Linked DNA regions of Homo sapiens. The protein of the gene in region 1 interacts with the protein of each later gene in a biochemical or structural test. Each region holds a gene or a part of one and is shown on either strand. Other genes may lie near its edges. The genes, in order: N4BP2 and BCL3.

Region 1 (10,426 bases):
AATCATAAATGGTAGGTTTTCAAAGACATATACTGTGGAGCCACAACTCTCTGGAGAGAACAGTAGACTATTATCTCTTTATAAGTAACTATTCTCTCTTAGGACAAATGCAGCTGCTCCATATTAGGAGTCAGAGAATGTGGTTCAAGTTATACCTCTGACATTAAACAGCAAACCAGTTAACTTCTCTAAGTCTATGTGGCTTTATTCATTAAATTGGGATAGCACTACCTATGTAATAAAATTCTCTTGAGATTTAAAATATAACATATACGAGAGTATCCCATAGTATAAGTCACTATATACATAGGAGTTGATAAGAATAATTATAATTCTGGATAAAAGCTCTATCGCATTTACCCTGTAACCCCAGTAACGAGTGCTCTAAATATTTGTTAGATAAATGTTTTTAAGTCCTTGCAAAATGAGTGAATTCTGCTTTGGACTCGAATATAAAGTTCCAAGGTCATTAATATTATTTAAAGCATTACTTGAGTCTCTAAGAGATTCTTTTTTTTTTTGAGATGGTCTCACTCTGTTGCCCAGGCTGGAGCTCAGTGGCACAATCTCGCCTCATCGCAACCTCCACCTCCCAGGCTCAAGCAGTTCTCATGCCTGGGATTACAGGTGTATGCCACCATGCCTGGCTAATTTTTTGTAGAGACAGAGTTTCACCATGTTGGCCAGGCTGGTCTCAAACTCCTGACCTCAAGCAACCTGCCCGTCTCAGCCTCCTAAAGTGCTGGGATTACAAGCATAAGCCACCGCGTCTGGCCTCTAAGAGATATAATTCTTAATTTTGATATCAGTTAAAAGATACAGGGTGTGAGGAGAGAAACCATAGCCAATCCATTTATCTGGTTCAAAAGTAGACTCTTATTTGCTACAGAAAACGTAAACCAGAAGAAAAGTTTTGGTACAGAAATAAAATTTTCATGACACTTTCCCCCTGAAATTACAAAGTTAGACATGAAAATATTTTAAAATATTTAACCCACTAACTCTAATACATCAAATGAAGGATTTCCTCACACTGGACTGTGGCTAAAGTATTTTATTAAATTAAGTATGTAATTTGCAAATGGCTTCATAAGAAAATTTAAAAGCAAATTTATAAAACATTTTCAATTTAAAAAGTACAGAGTTAACAGCAAAATTACATTTTCTATACAGTACAAATAAAAACATTTTTCTGATATACTGTCTGAAAATTTTATAATATATTCTCCAACTGATAGCTGCAATATTGTATTTTAATGAGAAGCCTCACAGTTAACTCAATCATTTATTAATAATAAGTTCATCATTGGACCATAAAAGTCAATTGCTCAACTTTAAGGAAAATAATGAACTTTGTCATCATATAATATGAAGTTATAAACGGCTCTTCAGGATGTAGATGTGTTCTAGCCTTGTTTCTCTATTAAATTCTGTAAAGAAGCATTAAGTAATACTGTAAACTTGAATTACATTTTAAAAATAAGCACCATGAACATACATTCTACATAAACTTATTTTACCTTTTAAATGACACCTTTTGGCCACATAAACATTTAAATCTGTTTTCTTTACATGTAAATAAAAATTGAGCAATATTTAACTACTACACCGAAAAATTACCAAACTTCACCTCATTGCACAATGGAAAAGCACTTAGAAAAAGCACTTGGAAAAAACAGCACACGTTATTTTTGTCTTTTTTATACATTTCGTCATTTTCTTAAATTGAGAGCAGTTAAAACATTGTCAGAGCAATTTCCTGAGTTTCCAAAGTTTCCAATTTCCAGCTCAGAAATAACCGATCTCAATATTATACATGTCTACTTTCTAAGCATACAAAACACTTGAATTCAAAAAGAAAAGACCTAAATAAAGGATGGAAACCATCCAGAAGAGCAGTATAGCTTTTCTTCTCAAAATATACTACTCAAGAGGATTTAAAGTCAAAATTTCTGCTATATAATATGTCCTATATTTAAAGGCCATAAAGTTGCAAATAGTATGGAAATACTAACCAATTGAAGAAACTGCACATTAAAAATAATGTAGAGAAATATGAAGAGCCAATAAACGTAAAAAAAAAAACACTTCCATTTCTCACATTGGAATAAAGAGATGGACAGACTGAAAATACTGTTAAGTGTCTAATATCTCCCTGGTCCAACTGGACACCCTCTGGGGTTTCCACATTAGTCCTCTTTTTCCATCTGGGAGATAATGGTAAGAGACTACTGAATGAATATAATTATTACTGAAACCTTCCATACTACAGAAGTGCTGTACTTTTAAAATATTAAGTTTACAAAGAATCATTCTAATGAGTCATGTATTAGCACAAATATACAGGTTGAGTGAGTATCCCCTACTCAAAATGCTTAGGACCAGAAGTGTTTTGGATTGCTGGGGTTTGGGGGGATATTTTAGAACATGTGCATTATATTTACTTGTTGAGTATCGCTAACCTACAAATGTAAAATGCTCTGTGAGTATTTCCTTTGAGCATCATGTCTGTGCTCGAAAAATTTCAGATTTTGAAGCATTTCAGATTTTGAATTTTCTCATTAGGGATACTCAACCTACACCAATACATGAAAATTTTTATAATCTCCAAACTATCTTTGACATACAGGATTTAGAAATGGGTAATAGAGAAAACTTTTAAAATCCCCAAACTATCTTTACTGCGGGCATACAGGATTTAGAAATGGGCAAAAAAAAGAAAGGAGGGATTACAAACTTTTCTTTCAAAATTATGTGTTGCTTAAACTATGCTAGATAGTGGGGTGGGAGGCAATTTGGAATTAAGCAGCTTCATAAAAATACATATGATGCTCAAACTTTGCCTGTATATTTATCAACAATGATTAAGATATACTATTTGATTTATCAAAATAAGGCATAATATTAACATTGATATAGTAAACAAGTAAACAATATAGCTTTTTTCATTTGACTTCTGCCCACGGAATACCACACCTCTACTTCTGACTGCTCCTTCATTAATCATAATTATAATATTGAAATAAGTCTAGCTGAAGTGCCGAAAAGTGATGATTTTTAAAACTAGGTAAGGAAATATAAAAACACAGAAAGTGAGTATGCAGCTGCACACATTCCAATTAACTCCACATTTTAGCACTGTTTTTCATACCCTTAAATCATACTAATGTATACATAGGAATATCTTATTTCATTAACAATTATAGTTTCATAGTAAGTTGTTTAAAGGAACTGCTTTATTTTTAATGTTTATTTTTAATGTATAGAACTGTTCTAGAGATTACAAAAGTGTGCTAAACTGTTGGCATTCTTTAAATAAATTATTACAAACATAAGTGTGAATAATACTTCAATACCAGTCACTAACCATTTCTAAATAATAAACATGTATTTTCATTTTTATGGAACTAAAATTCAATGATAAGCCTCCTTATTTTAAAAGCATGCAATCATGATATATAAAAAAAATGTTTTGGGGTTTTATTTTCATTGAAATGTCTGCTCTTTTGGAAAACCATTCTGTACTTTAGGATTCTTTTGGTACCAGCTCAATCCTATAATTTCTGATCCAAATTTTTTTTTAAGCTTAACAAAAAGCAACAAAACTATTTGTTAAAATTATGTATGTTGAAAATATTCTCCATCTCCAAAGGCAAATTTAAGCCATTGTCTCATATTGGAAAATTATACCTTACCACATTATAACCTCCTTTACACAGGTTTAACTTGCATACTAACAGAATTTATTAGCTAACCAAACAACAGAAGTTAATGACAGCTTCCTTTGAGAAAGTTGGCTCTTTTTCAAAATAAAAGTGAAAATATTTTAAATTGTAAGGATTCTTCTTATGATTATAACCAAAATATTTTCTCTTTTTTTTCTTTTTTTTTTTTGGAGACGGAGTCTTGCTCTGTCACCCAGGCTGAGTGCAGTGGTGTGATCTCGATCTCGGGTCACTGCAACCTCCACCTCCCAGGTTTAAGCGGTTCTCCTGCCTCAGCCTCCCAAGTAGCTGGGATTACAGGCACACGCCACCACACCCAGCTAATTTTTGTATTTTTAATAGAGACGGGGATTCACCATGTTGGCCAGGCTGGTCTTGAACTTCTGACCTCAGGCGATCCACCTACCTCGGCCTCCCAAAGTGCTGGGATTACAGGCGTGGGCCACCACACCAGGCCAATTATAAACAAAATATTTTCTATATTTGTTTAATAGAATTTTAACCTACTGCAGTTTTAAAATTACATGCCTCAAAAATAAAATATAAGTATTTAGTACTGTCTGAAATACGACTTATACAGACAGTTCTAGAAGCATTTCGATAAGGCAGCAACATCTGGAAGATATTTAACCATTTCTTTTTCTCTGAAAACCTTTCTGTCTATAGAAAGTATAAAATTACAATATAATCTCAGACCCAACTTTCTTTCCATAAAATGCACACAGAAGAACAGAACAAAAGGTAAAAGATCAAGGTCATATACAAAGCAGAAGAAAGGGCAAAAGCATGTCTTCCTTCCTGTAGGATATGGCAAAATAAAAGCATTTTATGTGTTTAGTTTTGAAAATAAAAAATATTCAAGTGTTTTTGTTAGATCTCCTTTTTTTCTTTACTACCACTACTATGTCCTTTTTCCTCTTTTAATACCACCCTTTGGGGGGCATGAATCAGGTCTCAAAGCACTTTAAATACCTCTCACAAAAGACTTTTAGGACATTACTAAATGTCATACAACAATTAATACAAAGGTAACCTTTTCTGAGAAACAATCAGAGCATTTTAAACTTTAAAACTGTAGCTGATAATTTTCTTACATATTTTGTAATCAATAAAATTTCTCTGTAATATCTTTAACAGGTAACATTTGCATTTGATTCAGTAAAAAATCAAACCTCACTTGCATTTTGAAAAACATCATAATTTTTTTGTTTCATAATTGAATATTATTTATAATAAAACACATCTTTAGGGTAGAATTGACTGAATTACTGCAAATAAAAGTAATTTTAACCTACAAACCTTCATACTTCTAATTCAAGGATGTTTATTTTACTTTAGCATGACTTTCAAGCACCCTGGTTTAATTTCAGAGAACCTGCAGAAATGAGAAAAGAGTTATTTTAAAGATGAAAATTTCAAATTAGCTAAGGAATATACCTTGTAATCAATTCCAAGTACCTACGCTTAATATAATATTTACTACCAAAGTATTGACCCTTATTAAGTCAATATCCAAGACCAACATCTAGGTTTGTGTTCCTTTTATCTACGGTCAAAACAAATACAATCTTAAAGCTGGAGGTTGCTCTTGACTTAGTATAACTTAAGATTTGTCAAAACCTGTGAGGCCTGAATTTTACCTTTATGAAAAAGAGTATGCTGTAGGAAGAATAAAGTCCTTGGTGCATCATGAAAGCACCAAGAAGAAATCTCTGATATATCAGGTAAGTCTGATTAATCTGGCCATGCAATGCTTTCAACTCTATCCGGAGAGAATTTAAAGGAAGACTAGTCTCTAAAATAGATAATTAATCTCAACATAATGTTCTGGTCTAACTACTCCTTTTATAAAAATAACCCTGATGTCACCTGTTTTATGCTCATAACTTATGCTATCATTTTCGATAATGTAGCCAAATAACATCTTATTACATGGCATAAAATAAATATGCTACACTGAAATTGGTGGGTAGGAGTTAATGATACACATCTGCAGGAAATCTATCCATCAACAGATATTTCATCTTTGACTTTCTTGTCATTTTCTGTTATTAAATAATTATCACTTAATGAAAAAGAACATTTCATGTTTGTCAACACAGGTCATTAATGGCATTTAACTTATGAAAACACAAATAAATTCATATTAACTGAACATTTCTGCTAAAGTTTAAACGTACCTAAATTATAACTATATTTCAATAGAAGCCACCCAATTCCATCCAAAATCCACAAATACTGATTTCCTTTCAAAAGAATAATAGCAAATCTTAAAGTATGATACATATTACCTAATTATTTTGCATATTATCAAAGAAACAAATATATTTACTTTCTTTTAGAACTTTAAATTTATGATAGAAAGTTTTATCAGATGATTATTGGCAACAAACACATTTTTCCTTATTTCTGGTTTACCAGACAACATAAATCCAGCAGGGAAAGTTATATCATAATTTAAGCATGAATCTGTGGCTGAAATCAGATGATTAAATTTAGTTAACTATTTTAACAGATTGTTCTGAGTACGCTATTAGTGTTTATTTACCTAGCTATATTAGGGCTATTGCTATTATCAATAACAGAAATCTATACTCACAGAAATATCTGATAAAGATCTATATGGGCAGTTGCCATTATTAATAACAGAAATCTACACTCACCTGAAGCTATGGCTTATGAGGTACTTAATGACAGCTGGTTTGATGCGAGCAACTCCTCCCTGGCTGTGGTTTCCTCTCCCCGTAATCACAGACAAATAGGGCTTCCCACCGTTCTGCTTAAATTCTGTTACAACAGAAATCAGGGGAGTTAAAATTCATTTATCTTACATTCTCAATAGAAAACGTAAACCTTAGCTACTCAAGCACATGAAATTGTTTTCATGAGGATTTTGGGGTTTGCCATCTCAAAACTGTAATAGTAAGACAGATTTGCTATCTCAAAAAGCCCCCAAATTAATGTTTTAAGATGTATGTTTTAAAACACATAGCCTCATTGTAATCTATCCATCAAAAGATTTGGTGGGACTTCTTCCTTTATGGGGGAAGAGATTTCTGTGCACTACCAGAAGTTCTCCCTGAAATAATGATAATGGCAATAATACCATTAATGATACCTAACAATTACTATACAAAAGGAGTCAAGTACTGCTTTAAGTGGCTTATATTTATTAACTAAGAATCTTCACAACAACCCTGTTAATTAAATATTCTAAAGCCATCAAGCTTTGTTCTGAATCATAGCTCTGCCACTAAATGACTGTGTGACCATGGACAAGTTACTTAGCTTCTTTTGTGCCTATTTTCTCATCAGGAAAAAGGGATAATGATAGCAACTAGTTTATAGATTATCTTCCAGTAATAGCTATTAGCAAATCCACTAGTCACAGCTGGATTGCAGTCTTACTATTAAAGATAATCAATTGTTAACAAACTTTTCCTGATAGATAGTTCTTAAAACATCAAAGGAGTCTGAGCCTCCTAAAATACTGAAGTTCCATTTTGGAAATGACCTTGTGAAAATCAAGGATATAAATCCTGAAAACTAATAAAAGCTGTAGCAGAATAACAAAAACAACAAAAAAACTATTAATGAGATGAATTAATAAATTTAAAACACACAAAATATAAACATTCCACGGTCTGCTTATTAAATTGTCCTAATACTCCTAATAGAATACAAACAAATGGTTTTTCAAGTATCATATCTCCAAGATGATATTCAGCCTGGAATTTTAAAAGAATATGTTGCTCTTGCATTTCTAATTCCTTGTCTATGATCTCCATCTCTAATCCACATCCATTACTTCAAGCAATATGTTGCTCAAAATTCAACTGAGTGCTAGCTTCACAAAGGTATTCACAGTGCACAAAATTCTAGGTATATAGTGTAAAACCTTTTTACGAACTTTTTACAAAGTTTTTGCACTATATACCTATAATTTTGGGCACTGTTCTTTACATATGTTATATTACGCATAAAAGTTTTACATTGGCCAGGGACAGTGGCTCATGCCTGTAATCTCAGCACTTTGGGAGGCTAAGGAAGGTGGACCACTTGAGCTCAGGAGTTCAAGACCAGCCTGGGCAACACGGCAAAACCCCATCTCTACTGAAAATACAAAAATTAGCAGGGCATGGCGAGGCGCACCTGTAGTCCCAGCTACTTGGGAAGCTGAGGTAGGAGGATGGGTTGCACCTGGGAGGTGGAGGGTGCAGTGAACCAAGGTCACAACCAACTGCCAGCCTGGGCAACAGAGCCAGACTCCCATCTCAAAAAGAAAAAGTTTACTTACAAAAAAAGCCCAACTAAATCTCTAATCATAACTCACACTCTTCACTATGGCTCCCCTTATCACTTAGGTCAGTCATTTATACGATTATCACCTGCTAATAGTTCACTTATTGCTCTGAAAATATTCTCTAGTTGATTCACATGCCTCAAGTAAGAGTTCAAAGGATGTTTGTTGCATGAAGTAATGTATATGTTTCGTTTCCCAAATACAGGCTGTTCTTGCTGTTTAACGCCTTAGAAAGGACTGTTTAACTCATTTTTCAGCACACTCCAGATACTTCAACTGCAAATATTTCAGTACATACCTCATAAAAGATAAGGACTCCTTTAAAAAGCATAACTACAATGGCACCATCATATCTTATAAAATTAATAAAAGTCCCTTAATATCATTAGTTTCCAAAATTTCCCCCAATTATCTCAAAAATATGTTTTTACAGTAATTTGTTGGCATCAAGATTGAAATAAGTCTATACATTCTATTTGATTGATATATTTCTTAAGTAACAAGGTTTCCCCTCCCCTGGTGTTTTTCTTTACAATTTATTGAAAAAAATTGGATCATTTATCCTAGACTTCCTCTTTTTTTTTTTTCCCCCTGAGACAGAGTCTCACTCTGTTGCCCAGGTTGAAGTGCAGTGGGATGATCTCGGTTCACTGCAGCCTCTGACTCCTGGGTTCAAGCGATTCTTCTGCCTCAGTTTCCAGAGTGGCTGGGATTACAGGCCTGAGACATCATGCCCAGCTAATATTTTTGTATATTATTAGTGGAGACGTGGTTTCACCATGTTGGCCAGGCTGGTCTCAAACTCCTGACCTCAAGTGATCTGACTGCCTCGGCCTTCCAAAGTGCTGGAATTACAGGCATGAGCCATCACACCCAGCCTATCCTAGATTTTCACAATCTGAATTTTGCTGACTGTATCCCCATGGTGTTGTTTAACATGTTCCTCTGTCCCCTGTAAATCCCTATAAAATGGTAGTCAGTTCTAAAGGTTTGATCTGCTCCTAGTTTGATTTGGAGGCAAAAATGATTCGTACGTAGCAGTGTATATTTCAACCAGAAGGGACATAAGGTCCAGATGTCTCTCTTTTTTAAAAAATTCATCTCCGATTTTAACACTCCTTAATCTTATGTCAAAAGGCAATGCAGGTCAGAGCCACAAATCTTCCACTGGATTCATTTCTATTCAACAATACTGCCACCTGGTGGTGACTGACAGTAACTACAGACTACCACAGGTGGCAGCATGCACTAGAGATGGGCCTTGGCTTCCAGAAAAGATCTGCATCTTGGATCTTGACCAAGTATTACCTTGGGCAAATTACTTAGCTCTTTTTTCTTTTCTTTCTTTTTTTTTTTTTTTTCTTTTTGAGATGGAGTCTCGCTCTGTCACCCAGGCTGGAGTGCAGTGGCTCGATCTCGGCTCATTGCAAGCTTCGCCTCCCTGGTTCACACCATTCTCCTGCCTCAGCCTCCCAAGTAGCTGGGACTACAGGTGCCCGCCACCATGCCCAGCTAATTTTTTTTTGTATTTTTAGTAGAGACGGGGTTTCACTGTGTTAGCCAGGATGGTCTTGATCTCCTGACCTCGTGATCCGCCAGCCTCGGCCTCCCAAAGTGCTGGGATTACAGGCATGAGCCACTGAGCCTGGCCTCTTTTTCTCTTCTTACAATTTTTTTAATTGAGATAAAATTAACATAAAACTAACCATTTTAAAATATGCAATTAAGCGGTTTTTAGCATATTCATCATGTTGTGCAACCACCACCACTAATTCCAGAACATTCCATCATTTCACAAAGAAATTCTGTGCCTCATAGCAGTCACTGCTCATATTCTTGCCATTCCAGTCCCAGCAACCACTAATCAAATTTTTGTCTCTCTAGATTTACATACTCAGAACATTTGGTAAAAATGAAATCATACAACATATGGCTTTTTATCTGCCTTCATCTTTCACAAAGAATAATGTTTACAAGGTCCGCCATTTCTCTACATGGCTAAATTAAATTTCATTGTATAGATTTACCACATTTTGTTTCTCTATTCATCAGTTAATGAACTTTTAGGTTACCACCACCTTTTGGCTGTTGCAGACATTCATATGCAAGTTTCCGTAAAGACATATTGTGTTTTTATTTCTCTTGGGTACATAGTTAGGGGCAGAATTACTGGGTCATACGGTTAATTATATGTTTAACCTTTCAAAGAACTAGTGAAATTTTTCACAGTGGCTACACTAGCAATATATGAGGGCTCCAATTTATCCACATCCTTAACAATACTGATTACTTTCCATTTCATTTTTCTGTTTTTCGATTTTTCAATTTTTTTTTTCTTAGAGAGTCTCACTCTGTCATCCAGGCTGGGTGAAACAACCTAATTGTCCATCGATGGATA
Region 2 (10,255 bases), on another chromosome or scaffold:
CAGGGTGTCCCCTTGTTGCCCAGACTGGTCTTGAACTCCTGGTTTCAAGGGATTCTTCCTTCTACCTTGGCCTCCCAAAGTGCTGGGACTACAGGAGCACACTCCATGCCCGGCCCCATTCGCCACTATTAAAGTCACAAGGGGCTGGGCATGGTGGTTTATACCTGTAATCTCAGCATTTTGGGAGGCCAAGGCAGGTGGATCACTTGAGGTCAGGAGGTTGAGAACAGCTTGGCCAACATGGTGAAACCCAGTCTCCACTAAACATACAAAAATTAGCCGGGCATGGTGGCGGACGCCTGTAATCCCAGCTACTTGGGAAGCTGAGGCAGGAGAATTGCTTGAACCAGGGATTGGAGATTGCAGTGAGCCGAGATCATGGCACTGCACTCCAGCCTGAGCGACAGAGCGAGACTCCATCTCAAAAAATAAAAATTAAAAAATAATAAAGTCACAAGGAAGGCACAGAGAGGGAAAGCCACCTGCCTAAGGTCACATAACTAGCACATGGACGAGCCAGGGCTCAAAACTATGTCTCTAAGCCCAGCATGTTGAATTCTATTTTCCCCAATGAAGCAGGTCCTGCTATTGAAAACACAGGATATTTGATGAGGACAATAATAATATATAATGTTATATTATTATTATTATTATTATTATTATTATTATTATTATAAAACTAATAGCAGCTAAATTGCATCAAGAGCCTTCTATACATCAGACCCCATGGGACAGAGTCATATTTTCTTGATGTGATCCACTCTACAGATGAGGAAGCTGAGGCTCCACGAGGTTAAGTAACTGCCCGGAAGTCACAAAGCTAACGATCAGGAGACAGGACTTGGACCCAGGCCTCAATTCAAAACAAAGTAGGACAAGGAAGCCAGATGCGGTGGCTCACGCCTGTAATCCCAGCACTTTGGGAGACCGAGGAGGGAGGTTCGCTTGAGCCCAGGAGTTCGAGAACACCCTGGGCAACACAGTGAGACCCCCTGAGTCTACAAATTGTTTTTTTTATTAGCCAGTCATTGCGGCACATGCCTGTAGTCCCACCTACTTGGGAGGTTGAGGCAGGAGGATCATTTGAGTCCAGGAGTTCAAGGCTACAGTGAGCTATGATCTCACCACTGCACTTCAGCCTGGGAGACAGAGCCAGATCTTGTCTCAAAAAAAAAGCAGGACAAGACCCAGTAATTGAGCCAGATGGGAACTTAGGCCCTGACCAGCCCTACTCTCTCCTCTTAGAAAGGGAAATTGAGGCCCCTGAGAGCAAGAAAGCTGCCTCAAGCCTACAGACTTCCAGATGGAATTTCGTTTCCCTCTCAGGACTTTGAGCAGGTAAATTCCTGGCCTTTCCTCCCCCAGGATGGGTTGGGGAAAAAGAAACAGCAGCTGGGGAGGAGATCTGAACAGGTACAAAGGGCGGCCTGCATGAGGGGAAAGTGGTTAGACACCAAGCAGAACTTCCTGGCCTCCTCTGGGAAGTTTCTAAGACTCATCCAGGGGCTGCCCCTGCGGGTGGGGGCCCTCCAGAGGCCAAGGCCCAGAGAAAGGAGACCCTAGTCCTTTCCGCCTGGGGTGCAAGGAGCCGGGGGAGGGTGGGGGTGGCCATCCTGGTTCCGCATCCTCCGTTCCCGACATTGGAGGGAGGCTGCTGTGGGAGCTGGGACTTTCCTGAGAGCAGAAGATTCTGGGAAATTAGAGACAGCTGCAGGGCGGGGCTGCCTCCCAGCCTCCCTTCCCTTCCCTCCCCTTGGTCCCTGCTGGCTCCGGAGGCACGCCTCTCCACCCCTCCACCCCACCAGCTCCTCCTCCCCTAGTCCATGCCTTCCACCCTCGGACCCTCAGATCTTTTCCCCTGAGCCTCTTTCTTCTCCCTCAGATCTGGCCTCTACCCTCAGACTCTCTCCAAATCTTCTTTCCTCAGACCCTTCTTTCCCCTCCAACTCTCTCCTCCTCCCTCAGAGCTGCGTCCCCTCACTTAGTGCTTCTCAGACTTCCTCAGACTGTGCCCTCTCCCTCAGATACTCTCCCCTCCCCTCAGACCCTCACCTCCTCACTCAGACCCTCACTTCCTCCTTCAGACCCTCACCTCCTCCCTCAGACCCTTACCTCCTCCTTCAAACCCTCACCTATTCTCTCAAACCCTCACCTCCTTCCTCAGATGCTTATCTCCTCCTTCAGACCCTCACCTCCTCCCTCAGACCCCCACCTCCTCCTTCAGAGCCTCACCTCCTCTCAGACCCTCACCTCCTCCCTCCAAACCTCACCTCCACCTTCAGACCCTTACCTCCTCCTTTAGACCCTCACCTCCTCTCTCAAACCCTCACCTCCTTCCTCACATGCTTATCTCCTCCTTCAGACTCTCACCTCCTCCCTCAGACCCCCACCTCCTTCAGACCCTCGTCTCCTCTCTCAGACCCTCACCTCCTCCCTTAGCCCCTCATCTCCTCCCCCCGAACCTCACCTCCACCTTCAGACCCTCACCTCCTCCTTCAGACCCTCACCTCCTCTCTCAAACCCTCGCCTCCTTCCTCAGACTCTTATCTCCTCCTTCAGACCCTTGTCTCCTCCCTCAGACCTTCACCTCCTCCCTCCAAACCTCGCCTCCACCCTCAGACCCTTATTTCCTCCATCAGACCCTTACCTCCTCCAACAGACCCTGTCCTCCTCCTTCAGATCCTCTCCCCCTCCTCCCACTAAACCATCTACTTCTCTCTCAGACCTATCTTCCTTCTTCAGATCCTCCTCCTTCTGACCCTTTTATCCCTCTTCCAACCTCAGAGAACCATCAGCACCCTCTCTTCCAGCAGCACCGTCTCTCCCAGCCCTTCGAAGCTCCCACCGGACCCATCACATCTTCTCCCCTCTACAGTCCTGCTAGGTTGGAACCACTGCACCAGCTGCCCTGGGATGCCAGGAGTGGGACAGGCTTGGGTGTCCTTCCCACCCTACCTCTGAGGGTCCCCACCCTAAGCCTCGCCCCTCCAAACCTCAGCTTTCCTTTCTGTGCATTGGGATAGTGCTCCACACCCCTCTCCTGTGTCTGAGGGTCCCCAGGGGTGGGGTTGGATGGGCAGGGAACACAGCCCCCAGCCTGTCCAACCGAATTCCTCCCCTCTTCCCTTGCTGTGGCCCCCACAACACCAGCAGGCAGGGGTTGCCATTGGTCCCATTTTCCAGAAGAACAAACTGAGTCTCAAGGCAGGGGATGGCTTGTCTGAGGTCCCACCGGGAGCAAGGGGTGGAGGTGGAATTAACACAGGTCTGTGCTCGGGATGTTTCGCCATGAAGGGGGATAAGGGAGATCCAGAGAGAGGTCGAAAGGAAGGGAAGGGGTGAGGCCTCTCCACACAGCCACTTCTCACATCCTGGGTTAACGATCCACTCGGGTGGGGCCCGAGTCCGGCCAAAGTCCCTTCCCGGGGCCCCAATACCCACTTTCAAGGTCCCAGGGGACACAGAGACAGCAACAGAGATGGGGAGACAGAGACAGAGGGCGGGGCAGGAGACAACCAGAGGGAGGTCAGGCAAGTTTCGAAGACAGAAGGAGACCGGGGGAGAGAACCAGAGAGACGCCGCGTGCCCCCTGGGCAAGTCCGGGGTGCAGCCCCCATGCCCCGCCCCCTGTGTCCCCAAAGCCTCCCTCTCCGCCTCCTGTGACTCAGTGACCCGGACTCAACCCCAGCGGCTGCCCCGCCCCCAGGGAAATCCGGGAAAGCCCCGGACCTTCGGGGCCCCACCCCGGGGCGGGGAGAGGGAGAGGAGGGGAGGAGACGGGGAAGAGTCCCGCCTCCCTCCTCCCTCCCTCCCATCTCCAGCCTGAGTCATGCCCCCAACCCGCCTAGCCTGTTCCCCACCCATCAACCCCTCCTCGAGGTGGGAGGGGAAGTCGGGGGGAAGCCAAACTGCTCCCCGCTCCTGCAGCACCGGCCTCGGTCGCGCTGACTCTGGCCTGGTGTCCGTGTCTCTTGCTATCTCTCTTTCTCTCAAGATCTCTGCGCCTGTCTCCATGTCTCTTTCTCTCTGTGCACCTAGGATTTTCCGAGCACCCACCCCGGTGCCCCGCGGGCCCCGGCTGGGGGCAGGGCCCCCAACGAGTGCAGAGACACAATCAGTGGAGCGCTCCCCACCCTCACCCCACCCCCAGCCCCTTTAGACCCACAGCTGATGAGGCACGTGGAGTGGCAGAGATGGAAGAGGGGAGGGAGAGGAATCGTTCCTGGCCGCCTGCCGAGTGCCAGTCCCTGCCCCGGGTGCGTCTCTTCACTCCCACTAAGGAGGAAACGGCTCAGAGAGGGGAAGTGTTTGGCCAAGGTCACCCAGCGAGTAAGTGGGAACCGAGATTCCAAACCCCGTCCCAGAGATGCCAAGGCCTCCTGAGAGACAGAGAAGCAGACAGCAACTGAGAGGCAGAGAGATGGTGACAGACACAAAGAGACAAAAGAGAGAGACAGAGACGGAACAGAGCACACAGAGACAAACGCGGGGTTGCGGAGAGAAACACCTACTCAGACAGGAGAACCAGAGAGACAGTTACAGACTCAGAGATAGAGATGTTGAGAGATAGGGCCAGAAAGACAAAAACAGAGGCAGAGAGAGCGGCCCTTGGCAGCAGGGGTGGGGACACCCCCCCACCCCCCGACCCCGCCTCCTCTCCCCCCACCCCTCCTTTCCTCTCCCTCCCCCGCCGAGGCCTGGCTGCCCCAGGCGCCGCGGGCCGGGAGGGGGCAAGCGGGGCGCGGCGCGGGCGGGGCGCAGGGCAGGCTGCACCTCAGAGCGGCGGGAGCAGCGGCGGGTCCAGGAAACCCCTGGGGCGTACGGGTGGCCCCGGGGGGGCCGGGGGCGGGGAGGCGGGCGGCCGGCACCGCCCCGGCCGACAAAAGTCCCTTCAGTTCAGCCGGCTGCAGGGGAAGTCCCGGCGCCCGGCGAAACCACCCTCCCGTGCAGCCGAGCCCAGCCGCTCTCCGGCCGCCGTCCCCGGCGGCCCCATGCCCCGATGCCCCGCGGGGGCCATGGACGAGGGGCCCGTGGACCTGCGCACCCGGCCCAAGGCCGCCGGACTCCCGGGCGCCGCGCTGCCGCTCCGCAAGCGCCCGCTGCGCGCGCCCTCCCCGGAGCCCGCCGCTCCCCGCGGCGCTGCGGGCCTTGTCGTCCCCCTGGACCCTCTGCGCGGCGGCTGCGACCTGCCGGCGGTCCCCGGGCCCCCCCACGGCCTGGCCCGGCCGGAGGCGCTTTACTACCCCGGTGAGTGGCCCCCGAGGGTCCGGGCCGGGTGGGATCCACACAGAGCATAGGGTCACCAGAGCCAGGAGGCAGAGCTTGAGGCACAAACCGGTGTCTCTCCAGGGACCTGGGGGACAAGAGGATATAAGCCCAGGTTCCAAGGATATAGATATGAGATCATCGGGGAGCCAGTAAGCTGTGCCTTGGGATCTGGGGATTTGGGGACCCTGGGGGGCAAAGCCCAGGGGCTGAGTGACGTGGGGGGGGGGGGGCCAGGGACAATGCCCAGTGGTACAAATATGGGGGTGTCAGGGAATCAGGGCACAGAGCCTGGTATCCTAGGGGCAAGAAAGTACAAGCTCTTAAGCCAGATGTGTAGCGTTATGAGGAAGCTGAGCTGGGCTGGAGAAACTGGGGTTCCCTGTATCCTGATATTATTAGAATCAAAGGGAGTCAGGGTAACAGAGACTGGGGTTCTAAGGAGACAGATACTGAGGATCTCAGGATGTCACAATCTCAGGAACCAAGATATCTGGAGACATGGGCATTATGAAAACAGAGATGGGGTTCTGAGCACCCCAATATCTGGGATCACAAGGATCCAAGGAAATGAACCAGAGCTCCAGGGACCCAGATACCAGGGGGTCTTGAGGACCCAGGAGAACAGAGACCCGGGTTTCTGGGTACTCAGTTATGTGGGGCCACAAGTGATCAGGGTCCTATTTGAGGTCAAGATCAGGTGGGCAGAAGGGATCAGGGGACTGAGGATCCTAAGATTGGGTAATTCTGAGACTTTGGGTAATTTAGAGGCAGGATGAAAATTTCAGGGGTCTCCAGACAGAAAGCCTCAAGGCCTCAAGGCCTGGTATTGGAGATACGAGGACCTGGAAACTTGGGAGTTCAAGAACAGAGGGCCCACAAGGATCAGCAGATGACGAAGACCACACACTCTTCTCTCCATCCTATCTCCATCCCTGATCTCAAGAAGGGGTGTCCTCTACCACAGCTGTGGCCACGTCACCATCCCCAATTGACCCCCAAAGCTGCAGAGAGCCGTTCTACAGAGCCCCAAAACTTTAGGTAGTTTCTGCACCCTCCACCCCATCAGCGTGACAGCTGGAGAGCCTCAAGCTATGTGCATCAGGAGTTCTGCCACGGCCTCCCAGCTTTCCTATTCCAAGAGTGAGAAAGCAGGCCTCAGTTTTCCCCGTCTGTGTGATGGGTTGGTATGGATTTGCCTGCTGCCATGGTCCCCTCGCCTTTGTTTGTTTTTGTTTTTGTTTTTTGAGACAGAGTTTTGTTTTGCTCTGTCGCCCAGGCTGGAGTGCATTGGCGTGATCTCGGCTCACTGCAACCTCCGCCTCCCAAGTTCAGGGGATTCTTGTGCCTCAGCCTCCCGAGTAGCTGGGATTACAGGCATGCACCACCACACCTGGCTAATTTTTGTATTTTTAGTAGAGACAGGGTTTCACCATGTTGCCCAGACTGGTATTGAACTCCTGACCTCAGGTGATCCGCCCGCCTCGGCCTCCCAAAGTATTGGTATTAGAGGCATGAGCCACAGCGCCCGGCCTGCCGTGGCCCCTTTTTAAACAGTTTGATCTAAAATTACCCATGCGTGGTGGTCAGCATCTGTAATCCCAGCTACCTGGGAGGTTGAGGCAGGAGAATCGCTTGAACCTGGGAGGCAGAGGTTGCAGTGGGGCAAGATCGTGCCACTGCACTCCAGTCTGGGCAACAGAGCGAGACTACATCTCAAAAACAATTTGAACAGGCTTCTGGTAACACCTCCTCTCTGCCTCCACTCTCCCCAAACCCACTCTACATTTATCCCACACCCTGCACCCAGCAATTCATCAGCCACAAAATCACTCTGCAGACAGTCCCTGGGGTCCCCTGCTAGGTGATGATGGGTGCACCCTCTGTTCTTAAGGGACCCTTTGTCTGATTGGAGATTGAGGTCAGAAGATAAGTGACAATGAGGGTGACCAGCCCTAGAGGGAGAGGAAGCTGCCAGAGCCCAGAGGAGGGACGTGGAAGGGGGTTTGTTTTAGGCCCTGAGGACCCTGTATGGGATGCAAAAGGGACCCAGGAGAAAGGGCAGGTGACACCACAGGAGCAAAGTTTTAGAAGTGGGGGGCGGGTTGAGGGTCTGTGGGTGTGGCCTCACCCATGTCCCTTCTCTGTCCTCCATTGTCCAGGAGCCTTACTGCCTTTGTACCCCACTCGGGCCATGGGCTCCCCGTTTCCTCTGGTGAACCTGCCTACACCCCTATACCCCATGATGTGCCCCATGGAACACCCCCTTTCTGCTGACATCGCCATGGCCACCCGTGCAGATGAGGACGGAGACACGTGAGTGACAGTCCCCTATTAAGGGGAGGGGTGGTTGGGAAGACCAGCCGTCCATAACACAGGGCCACTCAGCTCCCAGTGGACCTGAGTCAGAACTCGGTCTCCACCACAGGCTGTGTGACCTTGAGTAAGGCCCTTCCCTGCTCTGAGCCTCAGTTTCCTCCTCTGAAGAATGGGCACCTTGAGAGCATTTACCTCCTAGGCCACTATTTTTGTTTGGTTTTTGTTTTTGTTTTTTTGAGACAGGGTCTCACTCTGTCGCCCAGGCTGGAGTGCAGTGGCACGATCTCAGCTCACTGCAACCTCTGCCCCCCAAGTTCAAGTGAGTCTCATGCCACAGCCTCCCGAGTAGCTGAGACTACAGGTGCCCACTGCCAAGCCTGGCTAATTTTTGTATTTTTTGGTAGAGACAGGGTTTCACCATGTTGGCCAGGTTGGTCTCAAACTCCTGACCTCAAGTGATCCACTCGCCTTGGCCTCCCAAAGTGCTGGGATTACAGGCATGAGCCCCAAGCCCACCCCTAGAACACTATTTTTGGAACGGTGGTCTTTAGATATTTTGTCACAACCTAAAAACAAGAAAGACAGTTCATTGATTAACTTACTATATGAATTATACATGTAAAACTATCACTGGACCTGGCATAAATGTTGAGTAAGTGTTTGTTAATATTACTATTATTTTATCTCAAACCCAGCACACACACACACACACACACACACACACACAAACTTGAAATTAAAATTGCACAAAATGAAACAATACTCGCCCTTACTATGTGGGTTCTACTGTGACATTTTCTTTTTTTCTTTTTTTCTTTTTCTTTTTTTTTTTTCTGAGACAGGGTCTCGATCTGTCACCCAGGCTGGAGTGCAGTGGTGCAATCATAGCTCACTGCAGCCTTGATCTCTTGGGCTCAAATGATCCTCCCACCTCAGCCTCCTGAGTAGCTGGGACCACAGACGCTACCCCCACACCTGGCTAATTTTTGTATTTTTTTTTTGTAGAAACACAGCAGTCTTGCTATGTTGCCCAGACTGGTCTCAAACTCCTGGGCTTAAGTGATCCTCCCACCTCAGCCTCCCAAAGTGCTGAGATTACAGATGTGAGCCACCGAGCCCAGCTTACAGCTTTACTTTGCCATTTTCTATTCTAGTCGACTTCATTGTTTCATGGTCACAGCCCACTACATTAATTTGAAGATCCCCTAAATTGATTTCACAACCCCCATGGTTTATCACCTGCAGTCTGAAGAACATGTTTGTGAGGCTGCTGAGAAGTCCTGCACGGGAGGGTTTGGTCTGTGCCTAGCACATAGTAAGCACTCACTGCAATTGATCATCATGATTCTTATTATTCTATTGACCTGGGTTGGAATCTCAGCGTGGCCACGTTCTACTCCCTCTGTGCCTCAGTTTCCCTCTCTGTAAAAACAGGAACCATCGCGTGTGAGGGTCTCTGGGAGGAAGAAATGACATGATTTATACAAAGCACTTCTGTGAGAATTAGTTTGGGGCCTGGAAACCACAGGTAGAGATGAACAGGCCTGTTTCTGCAGAGAAGTAGCAGAGGGCTGCTCCGCCACTGGCCCACTGAGTGATTTCATGTCCCTGAGTCTCAGTTTCCCTATTTGGAAACTGGGTCTCATAATAGCACCTATCACAATTAGGATTCAGTGAGATCTTGTACACATGTATTAATACAGTGCACAGAACAGGGCTGGGCAAACAGTAAGTGCTCAATGCATGGAAATGGGTAATGTTTGAGCAGAGCTCCCAGGGTGGTTGCAGGCCATCTCCAGAGCCCTAGCAGGAGAAAGTGGCCTAGATTATAAAGAGCTAATAAAACCTAGTTCCCTCCCCTTCTGGGTACCTCTGGGGGGTCATCTATGAAATGGGCTTAATCAGACAGTCTCTGCCCCCAGTGGTGAGCTGTCCATGCTGTTGAAAAGCAGGGTGCTTGCCAGAGGCCACCCGGCCCACCAGTCTCCAGCCCCAGGCCCTCCCCACACCCTCCCTCTCCGACTCTCCCCCAAGGCAAACACTTCTGCCTCAGCTGCCTGCTGGGGGAAATCCCTTCCCGCAGAACTTGACCGCAACCCAGCTGCTCTGCCTCCCCCACGTCAGCACCCGTCACTCACTCGCAGCCTCCCCCCTCCTGGCGCTTCCTCCAACCTTAACCCCTTCCGCTGGGGCTGAGACTTTACCGGAACGGGCAGCGGCCCGGCCCCAGCCTGCGCCACCGGCTCCTCTTCACACCCGCGGGGGAGGGCAGTGGGGGCGAGGAGGGCGGGGGACGCTAAGTCTGGGTCCCCGCAGAAGCCAAAAGGTTGGGAGGCTGGGCTTCCATCTCCTCACAGGCGGGTACGAGCCTTGGGGCATTTGGACCCCCAAGAGGTTAGGGACTGGGCAGCCAGAAACCTGGGGAGGGGGCAGGAAGGCGGGGGCGGGGGGGGGGGGTGATGTTCTGATTCTCAGAAGGCAGAAGTTGGGGAACTGTATTCCTTAATCTCCGAGGGGATGAGGAGCAGCTTGGCAGCTTGGGGACCTGGCACTCAGAGGGGCTTTACGGGCAGGACCAGATACAGAAATTTGCAGAGTCCCTTGTTCAAAACTTAAGAATTTCACGACAGCGGCAGCAGGACGTTGGGCTGGTGAAACTGGTCACGCCAAG

The links.
Region 2: the proteins of N4BP2 (region 1) and BCL3 form a complex in vitro, tested with the Homo sapiens proteins (one study listed by BioGRID).

Annotation. Positions count from the first base shown.
Region 1 is NC_000004.12:40,148,866-40,159,291, reverse strand, and holds the end of N4BP2 (NEDD4-binding protein 2), read right to left. Parts: intron 6,513-10,426; coding exon 6,389-6,512; intron 5,101-6,388; coding exon 5,055-5,100; 3' UTR 1,040-5,054; downstream 1-1,039. UniProt on the Homo sapiens protein: Has 5'-polynucleotide kinase and nicking endonuclease activity. May play a role in DNA repair or recombination.
Region 2 is NC_000019.10:44,743,800-44,754,054, forward strand, and holds the start of BCL3 (B-cell lymphoma 3 protein), read left to right. Parts: upstream 1-4,908; 5' UTR 4,909-4,991; coding exon 4,992-5,247; intron 5,248-7,427; coding exon 7,428-7,581; intron 7,582-10,255. UniProt on the Homo sapiens protein: Contributes to the regulation of transcriptional activation of NF-kappa-B target genes. In the cytoplasm, inhibits the nuclear translocation of the NF-kappa-B p50 subunit.